7 linked regions of the Homo sapiens genome follow. The protein of the gene in region 6 purifies or fractionates together with the protein of the main gene of each other region. This does not show direct contact. Each region holds a gene or a part of one and is shown on either strand. Other genes may lie near its edges. The genes, in order: STX18, IFT172, TRAF7, EHBP1, EXOC7, IFT57 and HOMER1.

The links.
Region 1: the proteins of IFT57 (region 6) and STX18 purify together in Homo sapiens (affinity purification with mass spectrometry; 4 studies listed by BioGRID and IntAct, with this or other methods). This does not show direct contact.
Region 2: the proteins of IFT57 (region 6) and IFT172 purify together in Homo sapiens (affinity purification with mass spectrometry; 5 studies listed by BioGRID and IntAct, with this or other methods). This does not show direct contact.
Region 3: the proteins of IFT57 (region 6) and TRAF7 purify together in Homo sapiens (affinity purification with mass spectrometry; 4 studies listed by BioGRID and IntAct, with this or other methods). This does not show direct contact.
Region 4: the proteins of IFT57 (region 6) and EHBP1 purify together in Homo sapiens (affinity purification with mass spectrometry; 4 studies listed by BioGRID and IntAct, with this or other methods). This does not show direct contact.
Region 5: the proteins of IFT57 (region 6) and EXOC7 purify together in Homo sapiens (affinity purification with mass spectrometry; 4 studies listed by BioGRID and IntAct, with this or other methods). This does not show direct contact.
Region 7: the proteins of IFT57 (region 6) and HOMER1 purify together in Homo sapiens (affinity purification with mass spectrometry; 4 studies listed by BioGRID and IntAct, with this or other methods). This does not show direct contact.

What each region holds. Positions count from the first base shown.
Region 1 is NC_000004.12:4,434,049-4,437,548, forward strand, and holds part of STX18 (syntaxin-18), read right to left. Parts: intron 811-3,500; coding exon 722-810; intron 1-721. UniProt on the Homo sapiens protein: Syntaxin that may be involved in targeting and fusion of Golgi-derived retrograde transport vesicles with the ER.
Region 2 is NC_000002.12:27,483,244-27,486,743, forward strand, and holds part of IFT172 (intraflagellar transport protein 172 homolog), read right to left. Parts: intron 3,000-3,500; exon of another isoform or gene 2,916-2,999; intron 2,261-2,915; coding exon 2,117-2,260; intron 1,888-2,116; coding exon 1,775-1,887; intron 1,024-1,774; coding exon 984-1,023; intron 924-983; exon of another isoform or gene 785-923; intron 695-784; coding exon 629-694; intron 417-628; coding exon 337-416; intron 134-336; coding exon 46-133; intron 1-45. UniProt on the Homo sapiens protein: Required for the maintenance and formation of cilia. Plays an indirect role in hedgehog (Hh) signaling, cilia being required for all activity of the hedgehog pathway.
Region 3 is NC_000016.10:2,158,782-2,162,281, reverse strand, and holds part of TRAF7 (E3 ubiquitin-protein ligase TRAF7), read right to left. Parts: intron 1-3,500. UniProt on the Homo sapiens protein: E3 ubiquitin and SUMO-protein ligase that plays a role in different biological processes such as innate immunity, inflammation or apoptosis. Potentiates MAP3K3-mediated activation of JUN/AP1 and DDIT3 transcriptional regulators.
Region 4 is NC_000002.12:63,041,213-63,044,712, forward strand, and holds part of EHBP1 (EH domain-binding protein 1), read left to right. Parts: intron 1-2,709; exon of another isoform or gene 2,710-3,500. UniProt on the Homo sapiens protein: May play a role in actin reorganization. Links clathrin-mediated endocytosis to the actin cytoskeleton. May act as Rab effector protein and play a role in vesicle trafficking.
Region 5 is NC_000017.11:76,090,288-76,093,787, forward strand, and holds part of EXOC7 (exocyst complex component 7), read right to left. Parts: intron 949-3,500; coding exon 856-948; intron 195-855; coding exon of another isoform or gene 42-194; intron 1-41. UniProt on the Homo sapiens protein: Component of the exocyst complex involved in the docking of exocytic vesicles with fusion sites on the plasma membrane.
Region 6 is NC_000003.12:108,163,425-108,166,924, forward strand, and holds part of IFT57 (intraflagellar transport protein 57 homolog), read right to left. Parts: coding exon 3,430-3,500; intron 2,070-3,429; coding exon 2,007-2,069; intron 306-2,006; coding exon 239-305; intron 1-238. UniProt on the Homo sapiens protein: Required for the formation of cilia. Plays an indirect role in sonic hedgehog signaling, cilia being required for all activity of the hedgehog pathway.
Region 7 is NC_000005.10:79,507,635-79,511,134, forward strand, and holds part of HOMER1 (homer protein homolog 1), read right to left. Parts: intron 3,384-3,500; exon of another isoform or gene 2,753-3,383; intron 1-2,752. UniProt on the Homo sapiens protein: Postsynaptic density scaffolding protein. Binds and cross-links cytoplasmic regions of GRM1, GRM5, ITPR1, DNM3, RYR1, RYR2, SHANK1 and SHANK3.

The sequences.
Region 1 (3,500 bases), on a different chromosome or scaffold from region 6:
CTGCTGCACACTTAAAATGCTATCACTTGCCAGGCACAGTCACTGGAGGCGTGCCGTGTGGTAGTCACATTCCCCACGTCTTAGAGGACAGTGTCACATCCTAGCAGCTCTAGGTGACATCTATTCCCACACACAGATAGCATATTCCATCTGGCTTCTGTCACACCAGTGTCCAGATGAGCTGCACACAGACATTGCTGGACGTGAGCTGGCAGGGGCTTGGCAGACCTATCAGTTCCTTTTGAAACCCACCCATAGATGGTAAGCTATAGCAGCTGGAAACCAGAAGGCAGGTAACTAAAAGGAGGTGCTATCAGTAGTTAAGGTGTTACTCTTTTCACTTTTCAGTCATTATCTTACTTTTTTCACATTACCATAGCACTAGCAATTCAAACAATTAAAAAGCATCATAGTGGCATTTATAAAAGACCCATTTAGTCTAGAAGACTATTTTACTGTTGTTGAAAAGACATCTATTATTAGTAAAATTCTTCCAAGGCAAAATGTCTTCTTTAATTATGCTACTGCAAATTTAAAGCATATGAAAAGCACCGTAAGAATTAGGAAATCAAATGGGAAAGTGTATATAAAATACACATTTATAATTTTTAAAACTCAGTATAAAAATAAGGGCAAGGGCATTGAGGATGAGTTTCTCCTTAGTGAAACAGTCTTATGAAAACCAGTTAAAAATAAATAATTAGGCAGAGAATAGCATTACCATTTGTATTTCTTCTGGGGATAACTCATCTTCGCCTTTGCCATCTCCCCACGTTCCCAATTCAGGTTGTGTTTCAGCCAAAATTTTTTCTGTTAAAAAAAAAATTGAAAATAGAAGACCAAATATGTGTTTTAGAATAGGCTGGCTTAGGATGTAGTCATAACACAAACAAGAGATTAAACAGAATCTTACAGCTTTGTCTATATATTTCATGATCTTTGGGCTAATATTCAGGCACTGCAGACATGATTCTTTCACAACATTTAGGCTTTAAATTGTCTTTGTGCAGGCACGTGCATGTGTGTGTGTGATGGGGAGGGGGACCTATGCACGGTTTCAGTATCGCACTGATGTCAGCAATGGCTGCAAACTAAATGGACATTATTCAGAATGTCTTCAGAATTCTTCAGAATGAGTCTTAAAGTATGTTTTACTTCAAGACACATACACCCCTGTCTACTTTTAAAGACTGTAAGACATATTTTTATTGTAAAAAATACATATGCATATATACATACATATATATATATATACAGGAAGTGATATACTGTTCTCCAATCCTATTCCTCTCCCAGATGTTACTGCTTTGATGTAGCTTCATAGATTTTATCTAAAGATATTCACATACAAAGATATATGAGTCCCTGTCTACCCATGAAATTCAAGTAATACACAGTTTTGTGTGTATGGCGGCTTGCTTTTCACACAGATATCAATAGTAACATGCTGTTCTAAAACTTGCTTTGTATGATTTATTGATACATCTTGGAGATGGTCCAAGTAGATCTACCTTGTTCTTTTAAATTGCTGCATGATATTCCATCGTGAGGATACACTGGTCTTTAGCCATAACTACGCTGACAGACCTCAGTGGTTTCAGACTGTTCACTGGTGTCATGGTACTGTGTCCCGGTCTGTGCTATGTGCACATGCTGGAGTGACTCTCTAGGACAGATACCTGGGCATGCAACTGCTGAAAGGGAGCGTAGGAACATTTTAATCTGGAGAACTTTTTCATTATGATCAAGGAAAGGTGATGCATCCTCCATTGAAGCATGTCAATACCACAGGCCCCTAGAAAGGACTGCTGCCGCCCAGGATGACGGTAAGAGGTCTGTGCAGTTCATCACCGGGGTAGGGTTGGGAGCGGAGGGGAGAGGGATGGCAGGGATGGATCCTCGGGGGAGACTGTAATGAAGTCACTTTGTGTCTGTGTCTCAGGGCTTATCAGTGAGCTTCCAAGTACTCAAAGGCAAATACTGCTTCTTTTTCCTTTTTTCCTCAATCTCAGTAAATTTCCTGTAGTCAGTCTCAGCCCCATGAGATGGCAACAAGTCCAGATCTTTAAATAGGGGAAGAGAACGTAATGATAGCAACAATGTAGAGAAAGCTCACTAGGCAGGCCATGCCTGAAAGTTATGGTTATTTATTAGAAATATATCTTTACAAAAAAAACTGCATGTCATCCACAACTTAGTGCATGCAGGCTTTTAGAAAAATGGCTGTTTTTACCAGAAGTGTCATTATAGAAAAACATGTGTTTGTAAAAGGTTGGCTAAAAGTATCTTTAGAAATGATCTGATATTTTCCTGAGATGACATTCTTTGGGTAGGAACATTTGTACTTTCATCTACCCCCCACCCCCACCTTATGAGCTGTCTCCTACTTGTCCTCATTATGGTATCCATTTCAAGCTTTTACTGTTGTTGATTTCTTTTTTAAGGAAAAAAACATCAAAATTAGAAACAGAAACCTTGTTCATATCTGAACCAAGCATAAATTAACTCTGAGCTAGAATGGGAAAGTTTTCTTAGCAGAACTCACACTCTACAACATGCTCATTTGTGGCCATCAGAAGCCTTCTTGATAGGCTGCCCTAAGGATCAGCCTGAAGCACAGCACCCACCATGCCAGTCCTCTGCCCAGGCCACCCGTGCACCCTGGTGCCACAGAGGCAAGTCCAGACTCCCTACTCTGGCATTCAAGGCCCTACCCACCCTTCCAAGCTTACTCCCACCTCTCCTCCCACTGATGGGCTTCACTGATCCCCACGGGTCTTCTTTACTGACTATATCCCACCCAATCTCCAGGCTTTCTGGCCTCTGAGCATTTGCTCATGCTGCTGCCTCTGTCTAGAACTTTCTAAGCTTTCATTTTTTATTTTTTCAGGTCCAGACTCACTTTTTTTTTTTTTTTTTTTTTTTTTTGAGACGGAATTTCGCTCTTGTTGCCCAGGCTGGAGTGCAATGGCACGATCTTGGCTCACTGCAACTTCCGCCTCCCAGGTTCAAGTGATTCTCCTGCCTCAGCCTCCCCAGTAGCTGGGATTACAGGCGTGTGCCACCACACCTGGCTAATTTTGTATTTTTAGTAGAGATGGGGTTTTTCCATGTTAGGCTGGTCTTGATGTCCTGACCTCAGGTGATCCAACCCGCCTTGGCCTCCCAAAGTGCTGGGATTACAGGTGTGAACCACTGCGCCTGGCCCAGACTCACTTCTTAGTGCCACCTCCTCTTGAAGTCTCCCTGGCCCTCTGCTCTCTCTTGAGGTACTACTTACTTTCTCCCAGGGGCTAGAGCCTTATCTTTCCCATCAACTGTGAGCTCCCTGAGGGCAGGAATCACATCCCTGAAACTTATTGAGCTCCAATGTGACACCCAAAGGAAATACTCATTGGAGCTTTCCAGATTTTAGTTTTCAGATTAGAGATGCTCAACTGGTAAGGACAATGCAAATATGCAAAAATTTGAAAAAACCCTAAATCCAAAACACTTCTGGT
Region 2 (3,500 bases), on a different chromosome or scaffold from region 6:
TGGACTCAAGCAATCCAAGCCTCCCACAACATTCTTTATTCATACCTGTGACTCTCCAGAGCCTTCATCATCAAAGAAATACCTAACGATGGTACCATCTGCATGACCAGAGAGAATTCCTTTCCCAGAGCAACTAAAAAAGGAGAAAGGAGAGAAATACAGGAAGAGACTATTTTATCTCACCAAGAAAGCCCCTTTCTCTGTCAAACACAACCTTGTCTGTGCTTCCTGCTACCAGTTCTCCTGCCTTTCATACTATGGTCTTGCAGTCCAGACTTCCCCACAGCATTTTCCTAACACTTCCAGACTCTAGTGATACTACTCCTCTTTACTCACTTTGTTGTCAGGGACACCACGTAAGACTCTGTCCCATAGATGGTAGATGATTTATTAGTTTTGGTGTTTGCTAAACGAACCTGAAAATGGAAAAATTGATACAAGTATGGTTAGGCTATTTTATATTTAACTAGGCCCTAAGAAAAAAAGGAAAAACTGTCCCACAAAACTGGTCCCTATGCATTCTCCCCAGTACGCAACTTGATCCTAAGAAAGAGGATGAACCATATTCCTCTCTCCAGAACCATTATCCCTACCACCCCCTCTCTTGTGTTTCCCTTCCCTCTTTTACCTTCCCTTCAGCCAGTCCAAAGACAATGATGTATTCTGCCGGCCATTGCAGACAAGTGACAGCACTCTGCGTGGAAGGAAACAATGAAAAGGATAACCCCATCTGTGTGGGCCAGCACTTTTATAACAACTTCAACACCCCACCACACACCACCACCTCAATCTCCTATAGGGAAGGACACAGCAGGGCTCTAAGGAAGACAGCAGATGACCATGAACAGCCATGAAGCACCATCCTTGCAGTAGGAAAAGTCACATTCAGATGTTAGAAATGCAACTCCTGGCTGTATTTATAAGTAGATATACTGATATATGTTTGTTCATCCTAAGGTTCCAGGGACTGGTCTGAACTTTACCGTCTGGATGAACTTGTTGCAGATGACTTTCTTGTCACCCCTGCCAAACAAAAGAAGGGGAAACATATTAAAAACCACTTCCAGGCCGGGCGTGGTGGCTCATGCCTGTAATCCCAGCACTTTGGGAGGCCGAGGCGGGAGGATCATGAGGTCAGGAGATCGAGACCATCCTGGCTAACACAGTGAAACCCCGTCTCTACTAAAAATACAAAAAATTAGCCGGGTGTGGTGGTGGGCGCCTGTAGTCCCAGCTACTCGGGAGGCTGAGGCAGGAGAATTGCGTGAACCTGGGAGGAGGAGCTTGCAGTGAGCCACAATCGCGCCACTGCACTCCAGCCTGGGTGACAGAGTGAGACTCTATCTCAAAATAAATAAATAAATAAATACCACTTCCATAAACAAATTGCCAAAAATGATGCTGAGGGAAGAGAAGAAAGAGCAGATTTCTTCCCTGGCCCAGTAGTATTTCTGACTACTCTGTAGGAGCCCTGAAAGGAGGTATATGAGGGAGCCTAAGCAGCTTCAGAACAATAACAAAGATGTGACATCACTCTGGGCTTCCAGGATCTCACAGGGCCTCCTGTTGACCTTGGACTGTTTCCTCCAGGGATGGGATTGAAGAACACGTGGGACAGGTGAAGGCAGAAAAGCAAAAACAGACTCCAGAAAGTCTCTGCCTTCAATGGCCAAGCTTGGCTTCTCATCCCCTGTATTTCCCCTCCCCAGTGAGGCATTTCTCTTGCCTTCCCCTTCTTTCCTGGGCCATCCCATCTCCCAGTCTCTATCCTCACCAATCTTCTCCAATCTTGTAGACATAGATGATGTTGTCAGTCTGTCCTATGGCAATTTTAGTGGAATCAGGAGAAAAAGCCATGCCCTTCACCATATAGCTCTTCCTGCCATACTAAGAGTTTAAAAAAAAAAAAAGAAAGAAAAAGAAGTAATGAGTACACATGAAAGAGAAAAGAGAAAAAAAGGCATATGTGTGCTCCTAAGGGAGCTTGAGGATTTATACTGAGAAAAAGGTGGGGTATGCCATTTCCTATGCTGATGGCTAGAAGGCAGACTACGTCTTTCAAGTTGTGAGACCCCATCAATAGGTTAAATAAGGTACACATGAATACACTGTTTACCTTCATGTCAGCTGGTTTGGTGGAGAATTTATCTCTCCGTTCTCCATGTTCATCATACAGCAAGACCACTCGGTCCACTGTGCAGACAGCAAATTTGGCATTGTTCTGGGACCAAGCCATGCAGGTCACCTTTGCAGCTCCATCCTGTAGAGGCAAAGGGGTAAAAACAAACCCATGTGCTGGTCTAGAATGCCAAAAGCATTTCTAGCTTCATTAATTCTAGTGTAATACTGGTCAATTTTCTTCCTGTCACGGTTCTATCCTCAAAACAAAGAGATGCCTGTGGCCCATGCTGGTCTCCAAGGCCTTCAGATCCTGGACTGTGAGAACAACAGGCTTCTAGAGACTCATATGCAAATGCACTAAGAGGCAGGGTGCTAAGTCAACTGTATCAATGAATCCCTGCAACGGCCTCCTCGTTTCCAGGTCTGCTACTGAAATAAATTCAATTAGTCTGGTAAGTTTTGGTCATTAGCCATTCATTCAATTAATATTTTTTTAGCACCTTATTGATCAAGGCACTTGGCCAGGGGCTGAGAGAGAGACAAAAAGCAAACCATAGATCCTGCCTCCACGTCTAATAAGATGGTGCAAAATAGAAAAGTCCTATTAAAGTATGTATAAAGTACTACAATAGTTTGGAGAAGCCTGAGAGAATTTTATGCTTAAATTATCAAAATTAAGCTTTGAAGAATGAATGCAGTTGAGTAGGAAGTTATCTGAGATGGGAGGAATGGCAATGAGCAAAGGCAAATTCTGGACAAGAAACAGTAATTTAGTTTATTTGAAACTATTATACCTTATAAATAGTAGAATAGACGGGGTAAGGCAGGAAAAACAGGCCAGCTCAGGAAGTCTTTGAAGCCAGGCAAAGGAGTTTGGGCTTATTTGAAAGGAAAGGGAGAGACAGTGAGAGTTCAGGATGGGCGAGTACGAGTTGAGACTCAGGACGAATAATCCCACTTTCTTTTCTTCTTAACTACCCACTTCAGAGAAACCCAAGTTAGAAGTTATCTCCAGGTGAATTATTCTGACCAGATCTGACCCTTCCAACACTAGCTCTGGTCCTAAGGGACTAGCTCTGCTACTAAGGGTTTCCTTCCTTGAAAACAAAACATTTTATTCTGCTTTTCTTCTGCCCCAATTGTTTAATTATTTGGACACTAGAGTTCTGGCTTCAAACATTGACACTTTACACTCCAAACTCACCTATCTCCAAAGTCAGAAGTAAAAAGTCTATTTTCCTGCAAATCCTCAAACCAGAAAATAGCCACACCACCATCACTATGATCCTCTAACTCTTCATTATATTAGGTTAGAAGGCCTGAGGGCTCCTCATCAATCTTTGCTGATCCTCCTGCTTTATCGCTTTGCCCAATTCTGG
Region 3 (3,500 bases), on a different chromosome or scaffold from region 6:
TGGGCTGTCTACCACTCCTGCTGTCTCCTCTCCCATTCTCTAGGCTGCCCAGGCCCACCTGTCCCTTCCAATGCCACCTGGAAGGCCACCCACCCTGGAGCCACTCAGCCTTCAGGACTCGGGCTCAACCCGACATCTCAGCCCCTGCAGTTGGCAGCGCCACGAGCTACCTGGCCCCACCTGATCTTTGCGTCCCATGGTCTCGGGAGATGGGGCCTGGCCAAAGCCTCCCTCGGCCTTCCCCAGGCCCCACTGCGACTCGAGGGGCTTGGCCCTGTGTGACCCAGACTAGGCTCTCGGGGGACTTCTCTTGTGGAAGAGGCAGGGGCTCCTGAGTGTGGGCAGTGCCACACACCTGCAGCCAGGCTCAGAGGAGTCAGCCCTGGGACAGAGGTGTGGTCGTGGTGTGTCTACAAGGCTGCTCTGCCCTGGCACATGTCTATCCCGTCTCCAGCAGCTCCCGGCAGGAAGGTCGGGGAGAGCTGGCCAGGGCTTGCCTTTTGCCATTGTGCTTGGGGTGAGGATGTCCCAGCTGGGGTAAGGCCCTGATAGCCTGAAGTGCAGGGCGCCATGACTCGGCACAGGAGGTTCAGCCCTTTTGGGAGCCCCAGGTTGGCTCCTGCCCTCTGGGAGCAGGGAGGGGATCACCGGGCAGCCACTAGGAGACACTGACCTGCATTTTACAAACCCATCAGCTCCCTGTACTGCAAGCTTCCGGGGCCCCAGGGCCAGCTGCAAGCCCTGCCAGTGATGCCTGCCCGGGGGCCCAGGTGGCCAGGACCCCAGCAGGCACTCCCCTGGGATGGGTCGGGCTGGCCTCAGTGCCTGTTGCTCACAGTCTGGGAGAGCAACTGTCTGGCTTCCCCCTCACTCTGAAGTGAGGTGAACAGAAAGGCACGCAGGGCAATGTGCAAATCAGCCAGAAAGTCCCAGCTGGCCAACAGCAGCCGGGCCACGGGGACAACACCACAGGATCTGTGGGGTGTGCGCAAGACCCCATCGAGCGCCAGCTGAGGGGGACGGAAGGAGGGAGGGGACGGAGGGAGGGAGGGGGCAGAGGGAAGCAGGGGGACGGAGGGAGGGAGGGGGACGGAAGGAGGGAGGGAAGGAGGGGGATACTCTGCACAGGAGGCTGCTTCCCAGTTCACTCGGGTTCAGTGTTCAGCCCCAGCCAGGGACATGGAGGCGGGCGGGACCCTGGGGCTGGAGGCCAGGGAACGTTTGTGTCCCGCCCTAAGGCAGGATCCATCCCCGCACCTCGGAATTGAGCAAGATGCCCGAGGCCTCCCCTCAGCCCAGTCCCCAGGGACTGGGTTTTGCAGTAAGTTTCCCCAGTAGGGAGAGGACCCCTTGGGCCACAACTGGAAAGCACAATAGCTCAGCATCCCCTGATGGCTGGGAGGCTTTTCTGGGGGCATGCCCTGGCCCCCCAGAGGGAGAGTGCCTCTTTCCCCACCCCACAGTCATCGAGGCTGGGGGGTGGCCGGGCAGGAAGTTGTCAACCGGAGTGAGAATTCCCCTTCAATTCTCTGGCCTCTCTGCCCTCCAGTTCCCAGTGCTGGGGAAGTGGGGGTGTGTTCCATAGAATGAGAGACTCTTCCCAAACCGGGAAAAGCCATGGGGGCAGCTAGTGGCTGAGAAAGGGCTTTCCCCATCAGCCCCCCTACCCCTCCCTTCCATGTCCCCACCACGCCTGCCCGAGCACCGCCCGCCCACCCACACCGCCCGCCCATCCACACCGCCTGCCCGAGCACCTCCCGCCCACCCACACCGCCCGCCGGTCCACACCTCCCGCCCGTCCACACCGCCCGCCCATCCACACCGCCTGCCTGTCCACACCACCTGCCCGTCCACACCACCTGCCCGTCCACACTGCCCATGCTGGATGCTCCAGGAGTATTCGATCTTTGAAAGAGAAAAGTCATTGAGGAAGCGCAGCATCCACCCTGGGGAAGGCCAGTGCTGACCTTCAGGGGCGAGGTGCGTGGGTCAGCACCGTGCAGAGGGGAAGGGCAGGATTGGCCCCCCACCGTCCCCTCCAGCTGGGGCCAACGCAGGGCAGCCCCTCCCTGACCTCGCCTGAATCTGGGATTCAGGCCCAGGGTCTTTGTCCACCCCACATTCACGTAGGAGGGATTCCGGGGCCCTGGGGGCACCCACTGTGCAATAAGGAAGTGGAAGTCTTCCTCAGCGCCTCGCTGCCTCCACCCCAGCCCCTCTTCGGCAAATCCCTCAGGAGCCCCTCCCTAGCTCCCACAAGCTGGGCTTAGAGGGCTCTGCTGGGGCATCGCCCTGGGGGCATGTGGGATGCGGACACCCACCCCTTTCCCTGGAGACACACCTGGAGGGGGTCTGGGTCAGGGGTCCCCGCCCACTTGGCAGCAGCCTGGGGGGCCCTGCTGAGTGGGGGAGATGGGGGCTTCCAGATGCAGCTCCCTGCTCGGGCCAGGCCCGGCCTTAAAGCAGCTCCTCCAGCAACCCGGAGCAGGTGGGGTGTGGGGGTCCCCTGAACATGTGTGGGGCGCAAGCCATGGGTGGGTGTGCCTGTGAGGCCTGCAACTGCCCTGGGAGGAGCCTGGGACGGCTCCAGAAGCCTCCGCCCCGCCTGCCACAGGGCTGTGTGTGGCCGGCTGGCTGGACTGCGGCCAGAGCTCCGAGCGTGGCCCCTGGCATCACAGAGCCTGCCCAGGGCACCCACAGACTGCCCGCCCCAGCCCAGCCCCTGCCTCAGCCCCCTGGCCCAAGCCCAGGCCGCTAAATTCTATAGAAACAGGCCTGGTTGCCATAGCAAAGCCACACGCACTTCCGCCGCTGTTCCCTGACGTCCCTTAGAACGTTTTTTCCATCCCAAATAGGCAGGGTGTGACGTCGAAGGCTCCTGGGGTGCCCCGGCCTCTGCCAGCCTTGGTCCTTAGGATCCCCTCAGAACCCCAGCAGGCCCTGGTCTGAGGCCGGCTTGGCCCCGCTTCCCTCCTAGCACGGCGAACCCCCTTGCCTGTCCCTGCCCCCAACACCCACAGCCCCAGCTCTGCAGAGGCCTCTGAACTCCTCCCCCAGCTCTGCTCCTACTGCATCCACTCAGCCTCCAGGCCTGTCTTGCCCTGGCCAAGCCTCTCCAGCGTCCGTATCTCCCTCTGCTCCAGGGAGGGGGTCCCCACAGCTCGGCCAAGGCTTTACCCCAACTTCACAGTAAGGATGCCTTTTGCTGCCCCTCCGACCCCTTGGGGGCTGGCAACATCTCTCAGTCCTTTTTTCCCCTGTATCTCATGGCTGTCTATTGTGTGGGGACCTGGCCCAGTCGAGGGGAAGTCCAGAGGGCTTCCTGGAGGATGAGGCTGCTGGGATCCAGAGTGGGGAGAGTATCCTGGGGCACAGGAAGAGACCCCAGCTTCACAGCTCTGGGCTGGGGAGTGCGTTCCTGGCTCTCACCCAAGTCAAGTGGGCCTCAGACTCTCAGAAACAGGTCGTGAGCTTTGCCCAAGAGCCAAGGGTGGCAGTGT
Region 4 (3,500 bases), on a different chromosome or scaffold from region 6:
TGTTTTTTACCCTTTTTCTCCTGAGGTGTTTTTCATAGCAGGAGTTTCATTCTACTGAACTAAGTTGTAGGATCCCTCAAGCTAACAAACATCTTTTAGATACTTTTCCTATAGTTTTTTTTGTTCCAGATTATTTAATGCCCCCTCAAGAAAGATAAATTCATTTCTGCACACATTGGGGTGGGCTTTTAGAAAGTGGTATGTTCATTTTCTGCACAAGAAATGGATCTTCTCTAGGATTTTGTACATCTTGATTTATTCCTGGCTTAGAGTTTGAAGTGGGCGCTCTTCTAAAGGGATTTATGCATAGGTTCACTATTTTTGTAGTTATGGTTTATATGATAAGCTTTTTATATTTAAAATCAATATGTAATCCTGTGGAGGAGCTTATCCCCTAAAACCCCATTTGTAAATCTATTTTAGCTTTGTTACACAGTACAGCCACAGTCTTCCATAGATTGATTAGGTACAGCGGTAGAATCCTATCAAATGGCCTGTTCTGATGATGATGCAAACTCTTTCAGGATTGCTAGTTGACTGGAACTAAAGATAAGACTTGACTGCAATCCCCCAATGTGCTCTTTACAAAACTAGTGTTAATTTTCATCAAAGTGCCAGGCTTATTTATAGTGGCAAGGTTGAAGGTTTACTACAAGAACTTTAGGTCCTTTCTGTTAAAGTGTTTATAGGTATTTCTCTTGCCTTTTTTCAAGGTAATTATCAACTTCAGCAAATAAACTGAATCAGGGAGTGAATAATTGGCCCTATATATAAAAAAGAGTTTTTTAAACTAACAAAACAGCTCAGTGCAGATGGACATAAACAGAATCTCTTTATTTCAACACTTTGGCTCAAATGCAGCATCAAAACTTAATCCTATTTGTTACAAGAGGATATGGCTTTTGTAGCAAAAGTACACTGGAATCTTTAAATTAATCAGAACCCACATTGTAGTTTGTCCAAGCCAAAGTCAGTGCAGTTAGGCTTGAACATGCGAATGTGAATCTTGATCAATTTTAAATGTAATATTACATTTTTTAAAAAAGATAAAAATAGTTTACTTAATTTCTCAAATTAGCATTCAAATATATATGTATATGTATACATATGTATGAGTTTGTGTACATATATATTATATAATTTATTCCCATTATGAGAAAACAAACGTGAAGTAAAAGTATAGTTTGCTAATGTAAAATCTATTCACTGCACATTGCTATTTCCTGTACAGTTGACTAATATTTTGTAGACAGATATTAATGTAGCACTGTAATGACAGATTTAATATTTTAAAAACCTATAAATTTATGCTGGGATATTTTAAATTCTAATGTCATTTAAATTTGACTCTGAAATGATGAAAATTACCTAAATATTCTTAATTTTTAAATGATTTCATTACAGTTATAGAAAATGTCATTACTGAGCTAGGGAAAAGTTAAGATATTTTAAATTACTCAATACTTCAAAGGTTAAAATTTTCTTTAATGTCCTCTCTTATCCATTTTGTTAAAGTCCTAATTTTTTCAATATTAATGAAATCTTGGTATTTTTAATTACTAATTAAAGCCTTAAAAGCAACTGGTCAAGTTCAGAGAAGGAATAATTAAGAAAATTATATGTGTTGTTAAAATTTATGTTTTCTTGGTTTAATTTTTTTAATATAATTTTCAATTTAATTCTATTTTTGAAAATGTATTCAATTGTAAAGCTGTTAGCAAAATGGTTTCGAAGTAAATAATTATAAATCAAAGCTTATAATCAGAATGATTTCTTGAGGTTGGAAGTGAAAAAAATTAACATTCATTAAACTAGTAATCTTAATATAAAATTTAGTCTCAAATCTATTACACATTTAGGTTTTTTTCTGAAATAATATTTCTAGAATTATAGTTACCTGAAATTAGACTAGATGACCTTTAAGATCTTTCCAACCTGGAGAGCCTATTAATTTACCTGCTGAATAAGACTGATTTAAGAACAAGAACCAGATTAAAAAATTTTCCAGCATTCCTCTCCTCAGTTGCATTTAAATCCAAAGAATAAAATTGTGATATATATGGCTGCTCTTCAATTTTGCTGTTTATTATTTTTTAAATTATTATATTCAAAGAAACCCTTTCCAAATAGTTTCTGTATTCATCTCCATGCTATAGAATATTTCATTTTTAAAATAAAAATGTAATAGTGATCAGTTATTTAAAGTATTTGTGTGGTTTTATATCGAATGTGGATAATTAACATATAGCATGTTTCATATAAATATGTATGTATGTGTTAGAGCTTATAATGAAAGAAATAGTGATAAATTGAATAAAACAGTCTAGCTTTTTGCTGCTTTTCTAACCTTTATTGCATGATGATGCATCTAATTTTTAATTTGTAAATACAAGATAGAATTCCCTCTAGCACCATTTGCTTTCATAAAGCTGCTGAGCAGTTTGCTGTCTTGAATAAATTTTGCTTTGGAGGGGGTCGGGGGGGATTTGAACCAGCACATTCTTGTGTGGTTTGTGAAGATTCACATGGTAACCAGCGGTGTGCATTGTTAGGTTTATCTGAATAAGCACCAGCCATGTGAGTTTTAACATGATTGCCCAGGGCAATGGAGAGAGAAGAGAGAAACCCAAAAGGATTGCACTTCTCTCTGTTTTTTGGAAAGTGCATTTGCTGGGGGAGGGGGCTGCAGGAGTCAGTGGCCATGGTTCTTTTTTTTTTTTTTTTTTTTTTTTTTTTTTTTTTTTTTTTTTTTTTTTTTTAAGCTGGTGTCCTGTTTCCCTCTAGGTCCTCATTTGTTCTGCTATCTGCCTCATCATCTACTTCTTCTTTTCATTGTTTACCTTCCTAATGAGGGAGGCGGGGTAGACTGGGGGTTGATTGACAGCTACAAGCCCTTACAGTCTGGCCAGAGAGCAGTTGGCTTTGGTTTCAAAAGTGTTTTAAATGTTCGATTTGGTCCTGTTTCTATTAAATGAAACTGCTGCTCATCTTAAGGAAATCATCAGACCAGCAAAGATTAGGAAATATATTATTGGGGTCTAAAACCTTCAAAAAAAAAAAAAAAAAACGCCCCCCATCCATGGAAAGAGCACTGCCCATCGGGTTTTCCAACCTTTAACATAGGGTTTCAGAAAGAAATATGTAATTTTTCCTTTGCAAAAGTGCTTTGATTTGAAACCACCCAGCAAACGTCTCCAAAAGAAAACTGGCTGTGATGCGATCGAGAGCTGCAGTGTAATATTGCAGAGCAAATTTATTTTTTACTTCAAAGAAAAATGCTAATTAGCCGATTCACTACTTTTAAAGTTATTGTGAAGCATATGGCGCCCAGTGTGAGATACATCCAACTGCTAAAATAGAGCGAAGAGGAAATTAGCGAAGAATGGGCTGTTTGGGGTGAGAGTGGGGGTGGGGGAGGAGGATAGGTTCTCAGGCAGATTCTCTAGCCTTTTCAGAATGATTTTATCGCCCATCACTGTTTCCCGCCTCCTCATTTACCC
Region 5 (3,500 bases), on a different chromosome or scaffold from region 6:
CAGTGTCAGCGGCTGCCCTCGGGCTGGGCTGCGGTACTCACCGGCCAGCGGCCCGTGCTTGTCGTTCAAGGCCTCGGACAGGTGCTTAACTCGGAAATCATGCTCGTGACCTGGCGAGATGTCGGCCGCACAAACACAAGCAGCGTTTATCCAGGGGCCAGGCAGGCCGCCCCTTGGGGTACAGGGAAGAAGCCCTTCATCTCCAGGAGGGGGACGTCAGATGGGGATGGGGAAGGGGGCATCGGAGAGGGCCCTGAGCCCCTCCTCTACCTCAAGCCACCTTGGGAACAGCCGTTTCAAGCCTGACTTCAGTGAGCACCCAGGACCGTCCTTAGCTGCTCATTTCCCCGAGCCTGGAGGCCCAGGGAAAGCGGAGAAGGACCAAGGAGGGGCTGAAGAGCTGATGCTTGGCCCCAGGGGGGTTCCCCACCTCGCTGTATTTGGGGAAAGCCCCAGTTTGCCTGTCCTCTGCTGCACACACTCCCCTTTCTAAAGATGGGAAGGCCGGGAGGCCTCGGCCAGCTGGGGCCTGCCACTGCTGGTCTGAGCGTGAAAGGGCTGCCCCAAGACAAATAACTTTTTCTGAGTTCACACAGGAGACAAGGACAGAGACAGGGAAGGGAGGAGGGAAGCCTCAGGGAGGGCAGAGCTGCCATCAGCCAGAGAGGACCAGGCCGAGGGCTGCGAAACTGTCCCTGTGCCCGCTGAAGCCCGAGTGGCATCGGGGACCTGCCGTTCCCACCCTGCTCCCCTCAGGGTTTCTCCCGAGGCCCTCCTGGGGGAGGCTCTGCCCTGCCAAGTGCGTGGACACACAGTGGAGGAGGAAGGGACAGGAGGGGAACACAGGGTGATTACCTTCCAGAGGAATGAGGTTAGAGCCCCCCTTTTTCCCATCTAGACCATGCTGGGAATACTGTTTCAGAAGGTTCTGAGCCTTACGGATCGTCCCTGTCACCAGAGCCACACAGAGAGGAGATAAGAAGACCTAGGAAATGAGTGAGAGAAAACAGCAGCGGCCCTCCACCTGCCCCCCAGGCCCCGCACCCAGCTCCCCAACAGTGAGCAGGCCTTTCCCTGAGACCACCAGAGACGCTGGGGACAAGGATGAAGGAAAGGAGTCATTTCCTTCTCCAAATGGAGCCTTGATTCTACTACCGACCCTCCTTGTTCTGGATTTCAGCTCATTTCTGAAAGGACAGAGGGTAATGAAGATGGACCAAGATCCACCAGGAGAAGTCAAAAATATGGAGTGGCATCATAATCAGAACAGGCGAGGGCTCAGGTCGGAGGAGCCCGTGACAAAGCTCGCATACCCAGAGGGCACAACCAGGGTGGGAGAGCCTGGGGGGCACCCTGAAGCCAGCAGGCCCCCAGCCCAGCCCCAAACTCCAGGCAGAGTTCTCCGAGCATGCTCAGTGTTGGGACGTACGCCAAACAGCAGCCAGCAGGAAGCCACCCTGACTGAACTTCCGGGGGAGCGCTGTGCCCAAGGCGGACGGCTCAGAGACCCAGAGGCAGCCTAGCCCCACACCAGAGTTCCCCAAACCACCAAAGCGACAAGAAAAAATCCAAAAGTCAAGAAGGGGTTAACAGAAGCCACCACACAGAGCGCCTGGAGGGTGTGCACGGAAGGAGAGGGCACATGCTCTTGGCATGGGGGAGAAAAACAATAGTTAGTATCACAAGTGAAAACAATGAGAACAAAATGGCAGCACCCACAGCCGCCTGGGTCAGCCTCCTTTGTGGGAATGAGACATCTCGGGCCAGAAGACGTCGGGAAATCAACTCGCATCTCAAGCAGACAAGTGCAGCTGCCTTGTTAACAAAATGTATAGGGGCAGAAAGGCACCCGGGATGCCTCCCACCCCCACAGTCTATCTGAGCACAGTGAGGCTGCTGTGTCCTGGCAGCTCCCCAGAAAGCTGAGGGAGAAAGGGGCAGTGTCTGGAGGCTCACTGCTTACACCTGCACCGCACCGCACCGCACAACACCACAATTAGCTTGTTTTTTTTTTTTTTTTTTTTTTTGAGACAGTCTCACTCTGTCGCCCAGGCTGGAGTACGGTGGCACGACCTCGGCTCACTGCAACCTCTGCCTCCTGGGTTCAAGTGATTCTCCTGCCTCAGCCTCCCAGGTAGCTGGGATTATAGGCGTGCGTCACCACACCCAACTAATTTTTTTTCTATTTTTAGTAGAGACAGGGTTTCACCATGTTGGCCAGGCTGGTCTCGAACTCCTGACCTCAGGTGATCCGCCCGCCTCGGCCTCCCGAAGTGCTAGGATTACAGGCGTGAGCCACCATACTTGGCCCATAATTAGCTCCTAATAACCAAGGCCTGGCTCACGTCTCCCTTGCTCATGCTCTCCCCTTCAGCGAGTGCGGCTTACTAATGAGTGAATCTGATTCCTGCCCCACAACCCACCAGGAGCAGACACAGACGCAGGTGCACGCCGGCAGGATGTGGGTCGCCGATGTGGATCTAGCAGCCGCCAAACCCGTCAGGCTCCCAATTGCCTCCAGGGATGCTGAGGTCGGTGCTTCACCACCTGGGAGGCCTCCCTGTCCCTCTCCTCAGAAGTGGGAACCGACATCCCCAGAGCCTGACTCCCTAGAGCCTGACATCGGTCCTGAGCCCACCAGTTCCTGACAACTCTGAAACCCCACAGCTGGAGTTTTCCTCTAGTGTCTCTGGCCCAAGGATGGATGTGGTCCACTGTGAGCCACCTGAGATCAGATCCCTCCTGCCTGAAAGGCCAGGTAGCTGCATGGCCAGCGGGCACTCTTAAGGCAGTGCAAATAGGGCTCTGGGGCTTCTGGGGGACCTGTCAGGGAGCCAGGCAGAAGAGGAAGCAAGCACAGACTGGCTGGGGCCCAAGCATCCTAGCAGCCTCATAGAGACAGCCACTCCCCACCACACAGAAGGCACAGAGCTGCTCCATCCACTGTGCAGGCAGCTGCGCCCACAGGCTGGGCTGGCAGTCCCCATTTGCAGCAGGTTTTGGCTGGTGGGCAGGATTTCCACACTGGAGGGAGAAGGCCCCAGGCACCAGCTCCCTAATGCTCTACTCCCTGAGGGCAGCCCCTGCTCTGCCTGTTTCTCCAAACCCTAAACAAAGGCCTGCAGGGGAGCGGGTGCTCTTGTGGAACAGACACCTCACTCTCTGAGGGGCATGAGCAGGCAGGGACTGGAGAAACCAAGGGTGTAAGTAAGCTCTACCCAAAGCTTGTTGTCATAAGCAGGTGCCACAGGCCACAACTAGGGCATGTGCCCACAGCAGCAGCTGGACAGGGGGCCAGCCTGGGTGGGAGCAGCCCCGGCTTCTCCAGCTTTCTTTTTCAGTGCAATCTCAGCAGCCCCACCCCAGAACATCCCAGCACATCATCGAGCTGCGGGCAGCATCTCTCAGTGGCCAGACATAGCCGGGCTTGCCAAGCTGTGGCTGGCAGAGACACTGTTTACCTGGAGCACAGACTATAAGGGATATGATGCCGGGGAGAA
Region 6 (3,500 bases):
TTGAATCAATAGTTTGAATGTTAAAAACCTCTAAATTATAGTTAAAAAGCCTACCCTTCTCAGCTGATTTATAAGAAAAACAGTACGCTGATTATCAGACATTTTTGTACAATGAATCTCTCTTCAAACAAGCAACAAATAATTTGTTTTATATATTAATACTATTTTGTTAAGTAGGTTTCTTGAAGAGCTATTTTTCTCTTGCTCAGTTTTTCCCCTAAAATGAGCATGTACTTACCACCATCAGTCATGCTGCTGCCCTTTTCTTCCATTTCTTGTTTTACCTTTTCTAATTCTTCCATAACCTTTCATGAAAACAAGTTTTCATGAGCATTACATTTTAATAAACTTTCACAATTTTTGAATTATGTGTTAAGAAAATGTAATTTAGATATTAGCCACACATATAGAAAAATAAAGATATTAGGAATATTTTGGACATAATTCAAATAATATAAAGTATGCAGATATACAAAGCTTTTCAGTTTTTCAGAATGCTCCTAATGTTAAACTTCACCAAATGGCTGTCACATCTGTTTTCTCATGTTGCAATATACTAAACACAATCAAAGTTGTTTTAGTCACTAGACACTCAAACCTCGCAATTATCTCATCGCATATACTTTGAAATTCTCTAATAACTGGTTATTAATTAAAATAGTATAAACATCCTGAAGAGATTTTAGATTTCTAAAGCTTTTCTGGGTATCTTTCTTAATATTATAGTTCTATAAGACATTATGTCACTTTTTCCTCTATAGGACACTAAAAAATGTTTATATCATATGGCTATATATAAGAATATTCTTATTGCTTTATCCAAATCATGAACTCCGAACTCCAAGGAGGCATACTTTGCTGTCACACTTGTTCCTATCTGCACTCTATCTGGCGATTATACTACTATAACCTCTATTATTAGCAAAATTCCAAACCAGCATTAATATAAGTAGAAAATACTATCTTTAAGAAATTGAAAATTTTTTACATGATCTACAACTAAGCTATAATTATTGTGACTTAGTAGGCTTTATTTTTATCATACTGGTGAGTAAAACTTTCCCTGGGAATAAAGTGCTCATCCAAGTAAAGCAAATTAATTTTTTCAGGCATCTGAAATGTTACAACTGGGGATAACTATCTACTCCAAAAGAAGTAAATGGTTCCCTGGACTCCCTTCAAGTGTTAATTTACCTAACATAAGTGAACACTTTACTTCTACATACTGTTTTATTTGCTTAGAAGCACCACAGGATTACAGTCTAAATATTTCTGATGTTATATTTTTAGTGTTTTAAAATAACTTTATTCCTCAAATAATCTCTATAAAAGAGGTTTAATTCTTTCCTGTCAAAACAGTAAAGTTTGTTCCAATTATACTGGATTGTAACCAAAGATCATCTTGGATTTTAGTCCCAAATAAACTACTGACCTTTTTTCAAGGTTTTTTCCTCCTTTGGCTCTTCAGTGAAAAATGGGAATATATATCAGGTCCTACCTCTCTTGCAAGATCATAAAAATAAATGCAACTATTTATTTTTATGCAAATATTCTAAAGGAGGAGGTTATAAGCCACTCCCAATTGTGGACAGAGAAATACACCCAGGATCACACACAAATTATCAATAACAGTCACTAAAAATAAACCTTATATCTTGCAGACTAACGTTAAAATTTGTTATAGATTCCTTAAGTCAGTGCTTTACTATTCATCCCCATGTTAATAATAATTATTATGTAAAAAATGTTGAGGAAAATTATAAGTGTGCTAATATTATGAGCAGGTTTTATGTTGAATTTAATACAGAAACTTCAGGCATCCTGTGGAAACAAGAAATGTATCAATTATTGATTCAGTCATAGGAAAATTAGGGATTATCTCCTAAAGAAAATGATTTAAAGGCACAGGAAGCAACTGAAATTAGCAGTGTTAAACCATTTGTAGGTTCTCAATGGCTGGGGCCCAGCTGACAGGTGAGAAGCAGGGCAAGAGCATCAGTGTGTACCTCAGAGAGGAGTCTGGTTCTTTCCGTCACTCCTCCATTTCCCTGCTGGTATCGCTCCTTTGCCTGAGAGGAAAAACATTTTGTTTAATGGCAAATTCAAAGCAGCAGCAGATTAAATACGACTGACCTCTTTGTGTTTGCAATTTCTGCAGGTCATTTTATGACAACCCTGCTCCTTGTTTGTGAATACATTTGTGAAAGTGACATTTAACTGTAGCTGTTTTATGTCCCTAATAGGCAGCATGTATTTAACTAAGTACTACAAAATGATGAACTACCTTAACCTTCACAAACTGACTGTGTACCTCGCATGGGCATGGTTCACAATAAAAACTGTCCTTGGTCATTCCTAAACAGTTTAGGAGAGGGGCTCTTGGTCAATCTAATTTGCATGCTCCGCAGAGAAAGTCCGTTCTAAAACCAAAAATCAATCAAAGTAGAGCATGAAGCTCAATGATGAATAAGGATTAACATCCCGTAAGACAGTACACTCAACTGGAGTATGTCAGAAACTAACAATCAATTATATAATATTAATATTAGACAAATACATGGTGGCTTTGATCAGAGAGTTTTACATCATTTTGATAGTTAAAATATTCATAAGTAATTGTGTATATGAAGGAATAATACATTTAACAAATAACATCAAAAAGTGTAGATTTCTATTTAGTCTTTGAGGACTTCTGAAAGTATAGAAGTATCTCAAATTTACTTCTACTTTTTTCTCTTTCTCAACTTTGTCTGCTGAAGACAAAAAATATGCCTTCAACTGATGTTTGCAACTGTCCTTACTAGCCTTCTTTAACATCAGAAAATAGGGGGCACAAATCCCAAAGGAAAGCTTTTAGATCCCTACTGCTGGGACAAAGAACTGGTGCTTTCAAAGTCTAGTGATTTTATTTTTTGGTTAAAATTCTAAAACTTTGAAAGAATGAAAAATTTGTCTCATTTTATTAATTAAACTGCTTGTCTCTGAATGTATCTTGCTTTCACATTCCTTATTATGTGGTTGTAAGCCAGAATGGCAAGGACTGTCTTTTTCCTTTGACACATGTAAATGCATACTATTCTTCTTCCTCCTACGCCAATGGTAAATTAACAACAGACTTATAGAAGCAAAACCAGGTGTCCTGATACTCTGTTCCTGTTCTAAGCTATGTTCCCCCAACAGCATATGCCTTCATTTACTTAAATCAAATGAAGACGTGCATTTAAAGACTTCCAGGAGAAAACAACTTCTATTACATGTGAAATGGAAATAAGTTCACTCGGCTCTCTTGGCTTCCTAAAGTGGGCAGAAAATTGATGTTTTGCTGTTCATGAAAAGCATTTCATGATTCTCAAATGAACAGTATTGTGTCAAGTTTAGGGTTTAGGGTTGTTAACTTGAATAAATCCTTGGAAATCATTCTTAAATTACCTCACTCAGCTGGGCTTGAGCTGCACGATATTCTTGAACCAAATTCTCAAGCTGATTGTTGATGTACTTTT
Region 7 (3,500 bases), on a different chromosome or scaffold from region 6:
TGTCCAGTTAGTCATATTAATCTGAAATAACAATCCAGTAACTAAAAATAAATACTTCAACTAAACACTAAAGACTGAAAAAAAAAAAAATCACATGGCAGTAGAGAGGTTAGACCTTTTGGGATATAACCACCTTTTCTTCTGAGATGTTTAATCACTCAAAACTATAAACTATGAATAAGGACAGTTTCTTCTGTCAACCCCTTAACTCCCAAATTCACTATTTTATGACCCATAGTTAGTGACTCTGCTAAGAACATACCATGCTCTTTGCTACATTCTTACCTCTCCAATGAAATGTCCTAATTCTGAAAAAGCCCCGTTCAGCCAACTACACATCTCTCAGTCACCATCCCTCCCCTCCCCACTTCGGAACCTTCCAGGGCCTGCCCAACTGTCCACTTCCTCTACCCAGCCAGAGTTCATTGTTCTGGCTTGGTGTTTCCACAGGATACAAGACACAAAACCAAATTGTAAATGATTTTTAAAATTGCTTTCTTATTCTACTTCCCTGATCATGTTCTTACTCTGCTTAAAACCCTTTAGTAATCTTCACACAGAAGAGAAGTGCTTTTCAAATTACCAGTTGCTAACACAGCGTCATTAAATAAATTGAGTGGGTCACCATCATCAGTCTATCTTAAAAATAAAATAGAACGGAACAGAATAGAAACTACCAGAGTGTACCATACAAAGCAAGGGTATTATGTAGTGACATTTTATCATTTATATACAAGCATATTGGGTTGCAATGTAAAGATGCTTATCTTTCCAACGGGTCATAGCCAAAAAAACCTCTAAACACACTAAACTACAGGATAATCCAATCTTTCATTTGATCTACATGGTTCTCCAACCCAGTCCCTGCATAATAAGGCTCTAGACCTATCTCTTGCTACACCAAAGGGAGCTAGCTCAAGCAAACAAGCTTGTCATGCCAAACTCCTTTGCAGTTCCTCGTTTTAGTGGTGTCAATCACTGTTCTCTCTGCCTTGAATGCCCTCTTATTTGTCTAAGAGGCTCACTTGTACTCATCTTTCAGTATTTAACAACTATCACCTCCTCTACAAAGCCTTTTTATCCTTCCCTCAGCAGCTAATGCCCCCCCAACACACACTTTGTGTCTCCATAATGCCCTACATTATAGCTCCTACAAAATTTCATTGCACATTTTAATTTTAGGCTTGACTGTCTGCCCAACTTCCAAAGTATAAACTCACTAAGGGAAGGAGCACATTGTATTGGCCTTCCTATCAGCAGCACTGAGGTAAGTACACGCACTATAACAAAGGTTCAAAGTTGGTAAAATGAACAAATGACGAATTAAGGACTTGCATCTAAGTTGTCTATTGTCAGATATGATAGGGTGGTTATCTTTGCAATAAAACCCATTTATAGTGCTGGATCAAGATTTTCACATTTTTGCTACAACCCCTAGAGAGCAGAACCCTGCAGTTTGAGGCAGAAGGAGGTGTCAGCTTCCCATCTTTCAGCAAAGAGACTCAGTTTGGGCTGCAATGTAGCAGCACTCATTTCCATGCTTCTGGAAGTTATTTGGGGAAAGAGGGGAAGGAAGGACTCCAGAAGTTCCCATAGGCAGGTGAGATAAATCAGAAACAGCATTAACAGATTCCATTAGCAGGGAGAGCCCCATTTTATGTATAAGTAGCTCTTAATAAGGGAAGGGAGGGAAAGAATTCTTTACCATTGCTGATGGCACTAGGTTGCCAAAATGAGCTAAGTAAAAACAAAGGGTTTCATGAAATAAGTGGTTGAAGTTACTTGATTTCTGTTGCCTACTGTGATAGTTCTGAAATAGCTACTGACTCACTGCTGTCATTATGAGATACTATTTGGAGGTGGGGGTGGGGGTCATACCTAACAGGGGCTCCTCACTGAGGCTTCAAAACTTTTCAGAGACTTCATTTTACATACATGAATGCCTTAATTTTTAGGGGATCTGATACACCTATTTTACAAACCCATACTTTAGTTGCCTTCACTGCAATTAACAGTTCATGCAACATCCAAGATACTTTGACAGACTTTGCCAACTGTCAAGTTTCAGCTGTTCTTCTCCATTTCCAAAAAGTTCATAAACTACTATTAGGGGAGCCATAATTTTTTTCTGCCCAATCACTGATTTTATTAAAAATAATTCCTTTGCTTAGACTGCCCCTAGACTTGCAATAATTATCTACAATTAAGACGAAGATAAATCCTTATTATAACCTAACATTAGTTTAAAAAAAGAAGGTTGTAATATGTGAAACACTTTACCCACAGTATTAAATTTTAGATATCTATTACAGTAAGGTAATTATGGATTGCCAAGGTAAAGCTTTAAAAGCCATTTAAAGCCCTGTTTCCTTTTGCTTGAAATAGGTCCAGGCAGCTATGCTAATTCCACAAACATTTATTAGGCATAAATACGCATAAAGTGTGGAAACGTCAGCAAATGCCTTTGCTGTATGCTCTTCTACTTCCATCTACCCTTCCTCTCTCTACTCAAGTCACTATCAATGAGAAAGGGTCATAGCCCCAAATACAGGCTTTCCAAAAAAAAAAAAATAGCACCACAAAATGCTCGCTCCTTTTTCTCCTCAGTCCATATATAGAACTTTATTAACTAAAGGGCAGATACATTCATTTATAAACAAATTAATTATGCTAAGTGTCTAAATGCATGTTATGTGTGGTGCTAACTTTCCCACTTTAAACAACAGCCCCCTTAGTATTAAATTCATCCTGTCTCTTCAGATTCTAGGCGCTTCAGGAGCCGCGCCTTAAGGTGCAGACATGGCCAAGTCCAAGAACCACACCACACACAACCAGTCCCAAAAATGGCACAGAAATGGTATCAAGAAACCCGAAGCACAAAGATACGAATCTCTTAAGGGGGTGGACCCCAAGTTCCTGAGGAACATGCAGTTTGCCAAGAAACACAACAAGAAGGGCCTAAAGAAGATGCAGGCTAACAGTGCCAAGGCCATGAGTGCACATGCCAAGGCTATCAAGGCCCTCCTAAAGCCCAAGGAGGTTAAGCCCAAGATCCCAAAGGGTGTCAGCCGCAAGCTCAACTTGCCTACACTGTCCACCCCAAGCTTGGGAAGCATGCTCGTGCCCGCATTGCCAAGGGGCTCAGGGTGTGCTGGCCAAAGGCCAAGGACAAGGATCAAACCAAGGCCCAGGCTGCAGCTCCAGCTTCAGTTCCAGCTCAGGCTCCCAAAGGTGCCCAGGCCCCTACAGAGGCTTCAGAGTAGATATCTCTATCTGCCAACGTGAGGACAGGACTGGTGCGACCCCCCGCCAGGCTGCCATCTGCATGGGGCTGTGGGGCTGGGGTCCTCCTGTGCTATTTGTACAAAGAAACCTCAGGCAGGGAAAAAAAAATTCATCCTAAGCTTCCCTTGGTAAAATGACAGGCATTCATGCAGCTTAAAGGTTCTGGAAAACTGATTTTCTTCCATGATGCTACTACTCCACAGTCTAGACAAAAT